Regions from separate parts of the Homo sapiens genome. Here region 2 is linked to region 1. A link means that fine-mapping ties the variant in region 1 to the plasma level of a protein whose gene starts in the linked region. Region 1 holds a variant in brackets. A gene starts in the other region. All regions are shown on their forward strands.

Region 1 (2,605 bases):
AATTTGTTGATTGATAGACATTTAGGTTGGTTTTCTACATCTTGACTATCATGAATAGTGTTGCAATGAACACAGGAGAGCTACTATCTCTTAGAGATGATATCATGGTTTTTATCATCAGAAAACACCCACTGATTTCTATGCTAATTTTGTTACCTGGGTGGAATAATAGTACAGCTATATATTCCTCATTTTAGATATCTTTGTATTTCTACATACAATAAAAAAGCAGAGTACTTAGTCATGTTGAAGAACTTTAAACTTTTAGTATTTCCAGATCAATCTTCAAAACAAGGACAGGTTTATCTTTCTCTCACCACTCAATCTATATATACCTCTTGTGGGCAAGGCCAGTTTTTATCACTGGAGCCTTTCCCCTTTTTATTATGTACCTCTCCCTCACAGCAGAGTCAGGACTTTAACTTTACACAATACTATGGCTCTACATATGAAATCTTAAAAATACATAAAAATTAATAAATTCTGTCTAGAGTAGTATATTTTCCCTGGGGTTACAGTTACTTTCATAATAAAAATTAGAGATAAGGAAAGGACTCATTTATTGGAAAGTGATTTTAGGTAACATTTCTGGAAGAAAAATGTCTATATCTTAATAGTCACTTAATATATGATGGATTGTGTTACTCCTCAGTTTTCAATGGCATATACTAAAACATGGCCCTCTAAAAAGGGGGCAAATGAAATGAGAAACTCTCTGAATGTTTTTCTCCCCTAGGTGAATTCACCTGCTGCTTAGAAGCTTATTTTCTCTTGATTTCTGTTATAATGATTGCTCTTACCCTTTAGTTTTAAGTTTCAAAATAGGAGTCATATAACTTTCCTTAAAGCTATTGACTGTCTTTTTGTCCTGTTTTATTCACCATGAGTTATAGTGTGACAGTTAATTCTTATGAAAATTATATAGAGATGGTTAAATCATCAGAAACTGTAAACCTCGATTGGGAGGGGAAGCGGATTTTTAAATGATTTCCTGACCAAGCTTAACCAGTATATTAAATCCTTTGTACTGTTCTTTGGCTATAAAGAAAAAAGGTACTGTCCAGCAACTGAAACCTGCTTTCTTCCATTTAGCATACCCTTTTTGGAGACAAATTATGCACAGTTGCAACTCTTCGTGAAACCT[A/G]TGGTGAAATGGCTGACTGCTGTGCAAAACAAGAACCTGAGAGAAATGAATGCTTCTTGCAACACAAAGATGACAACCCAAACCTCCCCCGATTGGTGAGACCAGAGGTTGATGTGATGTGCACTGCTTTTCATGACAATGAAGAGACATTTTTGAAAAAGTAAGTAATCAGATGTTTATAGTTCAAAATTAAAAAGCATGGAGTAACTCCATAGGCCAACACTCTATAAAAATTACCATAACAAAAATATTTTCAACATTAAGACTTGGAAGTTTTGTTATGATGATTTTTTAAAGAAGTAGTATTTGATACCACAAAATTCTACACAGCAAAAAATATGATCAAAGATATTTTGAAGTTTATTGAAACAGGATACAATCTTTCTGAAAAATTTAAGATAGACAAATTATTTAATGTATTACGAAGATATGTATATATGGTTGTTATAATTGATTTCGTTTTAGTCAGCAACATTATATTGCCAAAATTTAACCATTTATGCACACACACACACACACACACACACTTAACCCTTTTTTCCACATACTTAAAGAATGACAGAGACAAGACCATCATGTGCAAATTGAGCTTAATTGGTTAATTAGATATCTTTGGAATTTGGAGGTTCTGGGGAGAATGTCGATTACAATTATTTCTGTAATATTGTCTGCTATAGAAAAGTGACTGTTTTTCTTTTTCAAAATTTAGATACTTATATGAAATTGCCAGAAGACATCCTTACTTTTATGCCCCGGAACTCCTTTTCTTTGCTAAAAGGTATAAAGCTGCTTTTACAGAATGTTGCCAAGCTGCTGATAAAGCTGCCTGCCTGTTGCCAAAGGTATTATGCAAAAGAATAGAAAAAAAGAGTTCATTATCCAACCTGATTTTGTCCATTTTGTGGCTAGATTTAGGGAACCTGAGTGTCTGATACAAACTTTCCGACATGGTCAAAAAAGCCTTCCTTTTATCTGTCTTGAAAATCTTTCATCTTTGAAGGCCTACACTCTCGTTTCTTCTTTTAAGATTTGCCAATGATGATCTGTCAGAGGTAATCACTGTGCATGTGTTTAAAGATTTCACCACTTTTTATGGTGGTGATCACTATAGTGAAATACTGAAACTTGTTTGTCAAATTGCACAGCAAGGGGCCACAGTTCTTGTTTATCTTTTCATGATAATTTTTAGTAGGGAGGGAATTCAAAGTAGAGAATTTTACTGCATCTAGATGCCTGAGTTCATGCATTCATTCCATAAATATATATTATGGAATGCTTTATTTTCTTTTCTGAGGAGTTTACTGATGTTGGTGGAGGAGAGACTGAAATGAATTATACACAAAATTTAAAAATTAGCAAAATTGCAGCCCCTGGGATATTAGCGTACTCTTTCTCTGACTTTTCTCCCACTTTTAAGGCTCTTTTTCCTGGCAATGTTTCCAGTTGGTTTCTAACTACATA
Region 2 (8,531 bases), not on the chromosome of region 1:
TTCCTGTAGAATTTGACTCCACTCCCTAACTCAGGCTAAAATCTCTCCTTGCTTGACTGTTATGGGAGATTTTTTTTTCTTTCTTTTCTTTTTTTTTTTTGAGACACGGTCTCACTCCGTAGCCCAGACTGCAGTGCAGTGGCGCAATCTTGGCTCACTGCAACCTCTGCCTCCCAGGTTCAAACGATCCTCCTGCCTCAGCCTCCCAAGTAGCTGGGATTATGCACGCCACCACGCTTGGCTAATTTTTGTATTTTTAGTAGAGACTGGGTTTCACCATGTTGGCCAGATTGGCCTCAAACTCCTGACTTCAGGTGATCCACCTGCTTCAGCCTCCCAAAGTGCTGGGATTACAGGTGTGAGCCACTGCACCCAGCCTGGGAGATAATTTTTGTTCTCTCCCTATTTCTCTAATCATGTTTGTCCTGTCTCCTTTGCCTGTCTTCCAAAGGTCAGCAATCTGGCAGAGGCTGAGGGAGTGGAGCCTCCTGGGCCAGCTGCTTCAGCTTCTCCCTGTCCTGCCTAGGCAGCCTCTCCCACTTACCTCACCACCTGGACCCCAGAGGAATTTGACGTTTTGATCAATATCTAAGTTCAAAATCTTTCCTAGGCTCAAGTCCTGCATTTAAAAAAAAAAGTATTTTTTTAAATTTCTGCATTTTATTTTCATGATTTTAGCATTTATTATGGACTACTTTAAAAATACAAAAAGAGGCCAGGCGCAGTGGCTCACGCCTATAATCCTAGCACTTTGGGAGGCCGAGGCGGGCGAATCACTTGAGGTCAGGAGTTCGAGACCAGCCTGGCCAACATACTGAAACCCCGTCTCTACTAAAAATACAAAAATTAGCCAGGCCTGGAGGCACGCACCTGTAATCCCAGCTACTAGGGAGGCTGAGGCAAGAGAATGGCTTGAACCTGGGAGACGGAGGTTGCAGTGAGCTGAAATTTTGCCACCACACTCCAGCCTGGGTGACAGAGTGAGACCCTGTTTAAAAAAAAAAAAAAAAAAGGTATGAGCAGTTGTATAATATGCTCTATCTGCCTCCTGGGTGGATACAAATAAAATAGGTAGGGTCTGAATAGACAGACATAAACAGAGGCTCTATTTGGAAAGACAGAAGACTGACAGTGGCTGGGCACTGTGGCTTACACATGTAATCTCAGTACTTTGGGAGGCTGAGGCAGGAAGATCACTTGAGCCCAGGAGTTCAAGACCAGCCTGGGCAACATGATGAAATCTCATCTCTACAAAAAATACAAAAATTAGCTGGGCATGGTGGCATGTGCGTAGTCCTAGCTACTCAGGAGGCTGAGGTGGGAGGATCGCTTAAGCCCAGAAGGTGGAGGCTGCAGTGAGCCCTGATGGTGCCACTGCACTCCAGCCTGGGCAATAGAGCAACACCCTGTCTTAAAAAAAAAAAAAAAAAAAAAGGCTGGGTGCGGTGGCTTGCACCTGTAATCCCAGCACTTTGGGAGGCCGAGGCGGGTCGATCACGAGGTGAGGGGATTGAGACCATTCTGCCCAACATGGTGAAACCCTGTCTCTACTAAAAATACAAATATTAGCTGGGCATGGTGGCGCATGCCTGTAATCCCGGATCATGAGGTCAGGAGATCGAGACCATCCTGGCTAAGATGGTGAAACCCCATCTCTACTAAAAATACAAAAACAAAATTAGCCAGACATGGTGGTGGGTGCCTGTAGTCCCAGCTACTCTGGAGGCTGAGGCAGGAGAATGGCATGAACCTGGGAGTCGGAGCTTGCAGTGAGCTGAGATAGCGCCCCTGCACTCCAGCCTGGGTGACAGAGCAAGATTCTGTCTCAAAAAAAAAAAAAAAAAACCAAAAAAAAAGAGGAAGACTGACAGTAATTACTGCCTCTGGCAAGAGAGAGGAAATCCAGGGTAGGAAAAAGACTTACTTTTCATTGAAAAATCTTTGGCACTGTTTGAATACTTATTTTTTAATAATATGAATTTTAAAAACAAGAATTATCAGTGGCTGGGCGCGGTGGCTCACACCTGTAATCTCAGCACTTTGGGAGGCCAAGGCAGGTGGATCACGAGGTCAGGAGACTGAGACCATTCTGCCCAATATGGTGAAATCCTGTCTGTACTAAAAATACAAATATTTGCTGGGCATGATGGCGCATGCCTGTAATCCCAGCTATTCCGGAAGCTGAGGCAGGAGAATCACTTGAACCCGGGAGGCAGAGGTTGCAGATCGCACTACTGTACCCCAGCCTGGCAACAGAGGGAGACTCCATCTCAAAACAAACAAACAAACAAACAAACAAATAAATAAAAAATCATCCAGGCTAGGTGGCTCATGCCTGTAATCCCAGCAGTTTGAGAGGCCAAGGCCGGTGGGTCACCTGAGGTCAGGAGTTCGAAACCAGCCTGACCAACACGGTGAAACCCCGTCTCTACCAAAAATACAAAAACTAGCCAGGCGTGGTGGCATGCACCTGTCATCCCAGCTACTCAGGAGGCTGAGGCCAGAGAATCGCTTGAACCTGGGAGGTGGAGGTTGCAGTGAGCCGAGATCGCGCCATTGCACTCCAGCCTGGGCAATAACAGTGAAACTCCAGCTCAAAAAAAAAAAAAAAAAGAATAAGTTTTTAAAGGTTGGGGTGCTTGGAGGATGAAATAAAGTAGAAGGGATGGCAGGTTTCCTTGGCACACTCCTTGGGCCTTAAGAAAGTGTAAAGAATAAGAAAAATACAACAAAAGGAAAACAACAAATATCAATGTATCCACCACTCAGCTTAATAAAGAAAATATAATAAACACAGGTGAAGCCTTTTTTGTGCTCCCCTTCTTCCCCACCACTTACCTCAGAGATAATCACTATACTGAATTAGGAGTTTGCCATTTCCTCAAATTTTAATTGAGTCCTGCATTTTTGACAAACATCTGGACGTCTCTATATGGGTATTTCACTCAGTATGGTTAAAAGCAAATTCAAGCTGGGCTTAGTGGCTCACACCTGTAATCCCAGCGCTTTGGGAGGCCGAGGTGGGTGGATCACTTGACCCCAAGTGTTTGAGAGCAACCTGGGCAACACGGCAAAAACCCATCTCTACAAAAAATACAAAACTTACCAGGCGTGCTGGCGCATGTCTGTAGTCCCAGCTACTTGGAAGGCTGAGGTGGGCAGATCACCTGAACCCAGGAGGTGGAGGCTGCAGTGAGCTGTGATTGTGTCACTGCACTCAGCCTGGGAGACAGAGTGAGACTCTGTCAAAAAAAAAAAAAAAGGCAAATTCAAGTGATCCATTTATGTAAACAGAAAAATGCACTATATAAATGTATCTATCTAGAATTCAGGGATCGGTGAAACAAAAGACATCGCATCGGCAGGTCTGTTTGCAACTTCTGGGATACACCAGGTGTTAGCGGTGATGACTTCTGGATGCTTGGACTGTGGATTTTTAAAATGGTTTTATCTGCTCATCTGTATTTCTAAATTTTCAACAATGGAACATAGATTATTGTATTATTATTATAATACCCCAAACCTATCTTCCTCTCAGCCCTCTTTCCACGAGCTCTTACCCTAAATGTCTCTTTTTCTGTCAGTGGCATTGTGCGTCTTCCTTAGTGCATCACCTCTGATCTTCCTGTAGAATTTTTTTTTTTTTTGAGATAGAGTCTTGCTTTGTCACCCAGGCTGGAGCGCAGTGGCCTGATCTTGGCTTACTGCAAACTCCGCCTCCTGGGTTCAAGCACGTCTCCCTGCCTCAGCCTCCTGAGTAGCTGGGATCATAGGTGCCTGCCACCATGCCTGACTAATTTTTGTATTTTTAGTAGAGACGGGGTTTCACCATGTTGGCCAGGCTGTTCTGGAACTCCTGACCTCAAGTGATCCACCTGCCTCGGCCTCCCAAAGTGCTGGGATTACAGGAGAGCGCCACGGCGCCCAGCTTACACCAGACTACTTTTTAAAATGTTTTTGTAAAGTCAGGGTTTCGCCATGTTGCCCAGGCTGATTTTGAACTCCTGGGCTCAAGCAATCCTTTTGCCTTTTGACTCCCAAAGTCCTGGGATTACAGGTGTGAACCCCTGCAGCTGGCCTCAATGTTAAGATCTTAAGGGGCACAGCACAGACCTTGTCTTGTCTATCTCCCTGGCACCTCTCACAGAGTACAGCTTATTAACAGATGTTCCAGAAACTGTTACTGAACATTCGGCTTGATGCTGTGGGCTTGTCTGCATCTTGCAACTGTCACCTGGCTGAGAAATTTCTTCTATAAATAAGCAGTTTCTGTTTCAGATGTGATATGCCCTGATATTTACACCCTGTCTCTTACCCCATCCAAGACTCAAACTTAGAAACTTGAATTAGATGTGGTATTCAAATCCTTAGCTGCCGCGAAGACACAGACAGCCCCCGTAAGAACCCACGAAGCAGGCGAAGTTCATTGTTCTCAACATTCTAGCTGCTCTTGCTGCATTTGCTCTGGAATTCTTGTAGAGATATTACTTGTCCTTCCAGGCTGTTCTTTCTGTAGCTCCCTTGTTTTCTTTTTGTGATCATGTTGCAGATGGCTGGGCAGTGCTCCCAAAATGAATATTTTGACAGTTTGTTGCATGCTTGCATACCTTGTCAACTTCGATGTTCTTCTAATACTCCTCCTCTAACATGTCAGCGTTATTGTAATGCAAGTAAGTAATATTGCTTGAACGATTATTCATTGGTGTGAACTATTCTGTCTATATGGACTGCTTATTCAGAGAATCAACATAATGGGCATGATGGTGAGTTTTCTTGAATCAAAAAGAGAAAGGAAGCAAGGCAGTGATTTTAATGTTTATGGAAACAAAGTAATTATTTGGAACTGAACTTGATATGATTCAGCACTATTAGCAACATAGATTTTTTTTAAAAATCAGCTCTTCTAATTAAGTGATATTTAGAATTTAAAAGTCAATGTTCATTAATTAAGGTGATTGAATGGAAATAATCCATACTTGATTATTTTGCTATCAAAACAATCCATAATTCATTATTTTAGCAAAATAATCAAGTATGACAGCCGGGTGCGGTGGATGGCTCACACCTGTAATCCCAGCACTTTGGGAGGCCGAGGTGGGTGAATCACCTGAGGTCGGCAGTTTGAGGCCAGCCTGGCCAACCTGGTGAAACCCTGTCTCTACTAAAAATACAAAAAATTAGCTGGGCATGGTGGCACAGGTCTGTAATCCCAGCTACTCGGGAGGCTGAGGCAGGAGAATTGTTTGAACTTGGGAGGTGGAGGTTGCAGTGAGCCGAGATCGCGCCACTGCACTCTAGCCTGGGCAACAGAGCAAGACTTTGTCTCAAAATAAATAAATAAATAATAACAATAAAGTATGTGAATATTATGTTATCAGCTCATTATCTGTCTGATGTTCTTTTCATAAAGGTGTGACCAATTCAGTGAAAGGAACGAATGCGATTCTCTGGACCTGTTTGGGACTGAGCTTAATAATTTCTTTGGCAGTTTTCGTGCTAATGTTTTTGCTAAGGAAGATAAACTCTGAACCATTAAAGGACGAGTTTAAAAACACAGGTTGGTTTGATGGTGAATCTTTGAAATCTATTTCCAGGGGATGGCTATTGTGAGTTTCAGTTCCTTTTCTTTTTTTAGCGTTGACTATTTCACTTCGTTACAGCCCTTTCGAATGTGTTAGAACATTGTTACATTAAATGAACTTGGTAGAGGTGAGCCATCTTCATTCTGATTTTGACACCTTGGCAGATTTTCTACAATGTCAGTCTTCTCCAGGATTCTTCCACTGTTAATTACTCTATTGAAAGTACTAAGGCTTTCTTGGGAAACATCAGTCTCTTTGACTAAAGTTAGCACATCGATTAAATGCCACATTATCAGAAACTCCTAGCCAGGTCTGCTACTGTCAGGAAAAGCATATTTGTCAAGATCTATGGTCATGTTTTTATACAAATATAGGTGTTCTTTGCTTGAGTGAACATTTTACTACTGAAAAATGTTAGAAATGAATAACCAGTTGCTCCTGAATTATTTGAGGAATCATCTAAAAAATAATTATTTTTAAGCAATAGAGAACCAGTCCCAGAAAAATGAATGTTCTACTTAAGTGCCTCTTAAGATAAAAATACTTCTGCAGCACCTTTGCTCATGATTGGATTCCCAAGCATGTACAGCCACTGCCCTATTTCTGTATGCATTTATTTATTTATTTATTTATTTATTTATTTATTTATTTAGAGATGGAGTCTCGCTCTGTGGCCCAGGCTGGAGTGCAGTGGCGTGATCTCAACTCACTGCAGCCTCTGCCTCTTGGGTTCAAACAATTCTCCCATCTCAGCCTCCTGAGTAACTGGGACTATAGGTATGTGCCATCACCTCCGACTAATTTTTGTACTTTTTGGTAGAGACAGGGTTTCATCATGTTGGCCAGGATGGTCTCAAGCTCCTGACCACAAGTGATCTGCCCGCCTCAGCTTCCCAAAGTGCTGGGATTACAGGCGTGAGCCACAGGGCCCAGCACATACTCATTCTTTTTTACTGAAAAGATCTGTTTCAAGCTGGGTGTGGTGGCATGGAGCTGTAGTCCCGACTGCTCTGTAGGCTAACGTGGGAGGATTGCTTGAGCCCAGGAGTTTGAATGCAGCCTGGGCAACACAGTAAGACCCCACCTCTAAAAAATGAAAAAATCTCTCTCACATTGCTTTGAGTCCCGATGTGTACTGCTAAGACTCTCATGACCACATTCTCTGTGAAGTTTGGGTTAATGTTTCCGTTTCTACATAATTAGGATCAGGTCTCCTGGGCATGGCTAACATTGACCTGGAAAAGAGCAGGACTGGTGATGAAATTATTCTTCCGAGAGGCCTCGAGTACACGGTGGAAGAATGCACCTGTGAAGACTGCATCAAGAGCAAACCGAAGGTCGACTCTGACCATTGCTTTCCACTCCCAGCTATGGAGGAAGGCGCAACCATTCTTGTCACCACGAAAACGAATGACTATTGCAAGAGCCTGCCAGCTGCTTTGAGTGCTACGGAGATAGAGAAATCAATTTCTGCTAGGTAATTAACCATTTCGACTCGAGCAGTGCCACTTTAAAAATCTTTTGTCAGAATAGATGATGTGTCAGATCTCTTTAGGATGACTGTATTTTTCAGTTGCCGATACAGCTTTTTGTCCTCTAACTGTGGAAACTCTTTATGTTAGATATATTTCTCTAGGTTACTGTTGGGAGCTTAATGGTAGAAACTTCCTTGGTTTCATGATTAAACTCTTTTTTTTCCTGACATCTAAGTTTTTATTAACGTGAGTTTTTAAAAACAAGCATGTATACCAGTGTGGGGGGTGAGGGTGGGAGAGAAAGGTGGGAGGGGGAAAGAATTCTAACCTATTGATAATAAAGCTCCAGTTTTGGCCAGGCGCGGTGGCTCATGCCTGTAATCCCAGCACTTTGAAAGGCCGAGGCGGGCAGATTACCTGAGGTCAGGAATTTGAGACCAGCCTGGCCAACATGGTGAAACCCTGTCTTTACTAAAAATACAAAAATTAGCTGGGCATGGTGGTAGGCACCTGTAATCCCAGCTACTCAGGAGGCTGAGGCAGGAGAATCGCTTGAACCTGGGAGGTGGAGGTTGCAATGAGCTGAGATAGCATCCCTGCACTCCAGCCTGGGCAAGAGGGTGAGACTCCGTCTCAAAACAAAACAACACAAACAAACAAAAAGACCTCCAGCTTCATCTTCTGCTGGATTTTATAGTGCCCCAAAGATATGTGGTCCTTAAAAATTGTATACCACTTATTCAGGAGTCTTGTTCCTGAAAGGGTTGTTCTTGTTACAGCCCTAGTCTGGGCTGTAATCAGCTTCTTAAGGTCCACAATGGTGTTATCTGTGTAGCATTTAACACAGACCTTCTCCACACTATCCACTCTCCACTGAGGTTGTTGCAAACAACCTCAATCATCCTAGCTGATGCTCATCACCTTGAACATGCTGACATGACAATCTTCTCACTAGAGACCTCTAAACGCTTGACTTACTGAAAAAAACAGCATTCTGTAGATCTCAGTAACCAATTTCTTTTTCTTTTCTTTTTTTTTTTTTTGAAACGGAGTCCTGCTCTGTTGCCCAGGCTGGAGTGCAGTGGCATGATCACAGCTCACTACAACCTCCACCTCTCAGGTTCAAGCGATTCTCTTGCCTCAGCCTCCCGAGTAGCTGGGATTACAGGCACGTGGCACCATGCCCTGCTGATTTTTGTATTTTTAGTAGAGATGGGGTTTCACTGTGTTGGTCAGGCTGGTCTTGAACTCCTGACCTCAGGTGATTCACCTGCCTTGGCCTCCCAAAGTGTTGGGATTACCGGTGTGAGCTATCGCGCCCGGCCCCAGTCATACGCTTCTATGGTTAGGGCGCTTCTCTCCGATATACATACATACAGATTTCAGGAAGGATCGGATGTTTCTCTTGATTTTTGAATTTTATTTATTTATTTTTTGAGACAGTCTCGCTCTGTCGTTGACACGGGAGTGCAGT

Direction of the effects. Alleles are on the strand shown, and positions count from the first base shown. The strength of an association depends on the size of the effect and on how common the allele is.
With allele A in place of G in region 1, the plasma level of the protein whose gene starts at base 4,426 in region 2 is higher (weak association).

What was found. PIP is the chance, under the fine-mapping model, that this variant and not a neighbour inherited with it causes the effect. The UK Biobank Pharma Proteomics Project read protein levels with antibody pairs (Olink). The fine-mapping took linkage between variants from a reference panel, not from the people measured, so its PIPs are less certain.
Region 2: TNFRSF17 starts here. The variant in region 1 is fine-mapped to the plasma level of the TNFRSF17 protein (UK Biobank, PIP above 0.99).

What each region holds. Positions count from the first base shown.
Region 1 is chr4:73,407,502-73,410,106 of GRCh38, forward strand. ALB (albumin) reads left to right here. Exons shown (of 15, transcript NM_000477.7): 4 at 1,093-1,304; 5 at 1,854-1,986. Among named protein-coding and RNA genes, the nearest start is that of ALB, 4.5 kb to the left of the region's middle. The variant A/G (reference allele first, on the strand shown) is at 1,145.
Region 2 is chr16:11,960,785-11,969,315 of GRCh38, forward strand. TNFRSF17 (TNF receptor superfamily member 17) reads left to right here and starts at 4,426. Exons shown (of 3, transcript NM_001192.3): 1 at 4,426-4,670; 2 at 5,411-5,557; 3 at 6,786-7,284. The coding sequence starts at 4,541. The coding sequence ends at 7,063. It also overlaps a transcript of NPIPB2 not described here and the pseudogene UBL5P4. RefSeq lists a silencer at 2,293-2,462 and enhancers at 3,974-4,093, 4,214-4,653.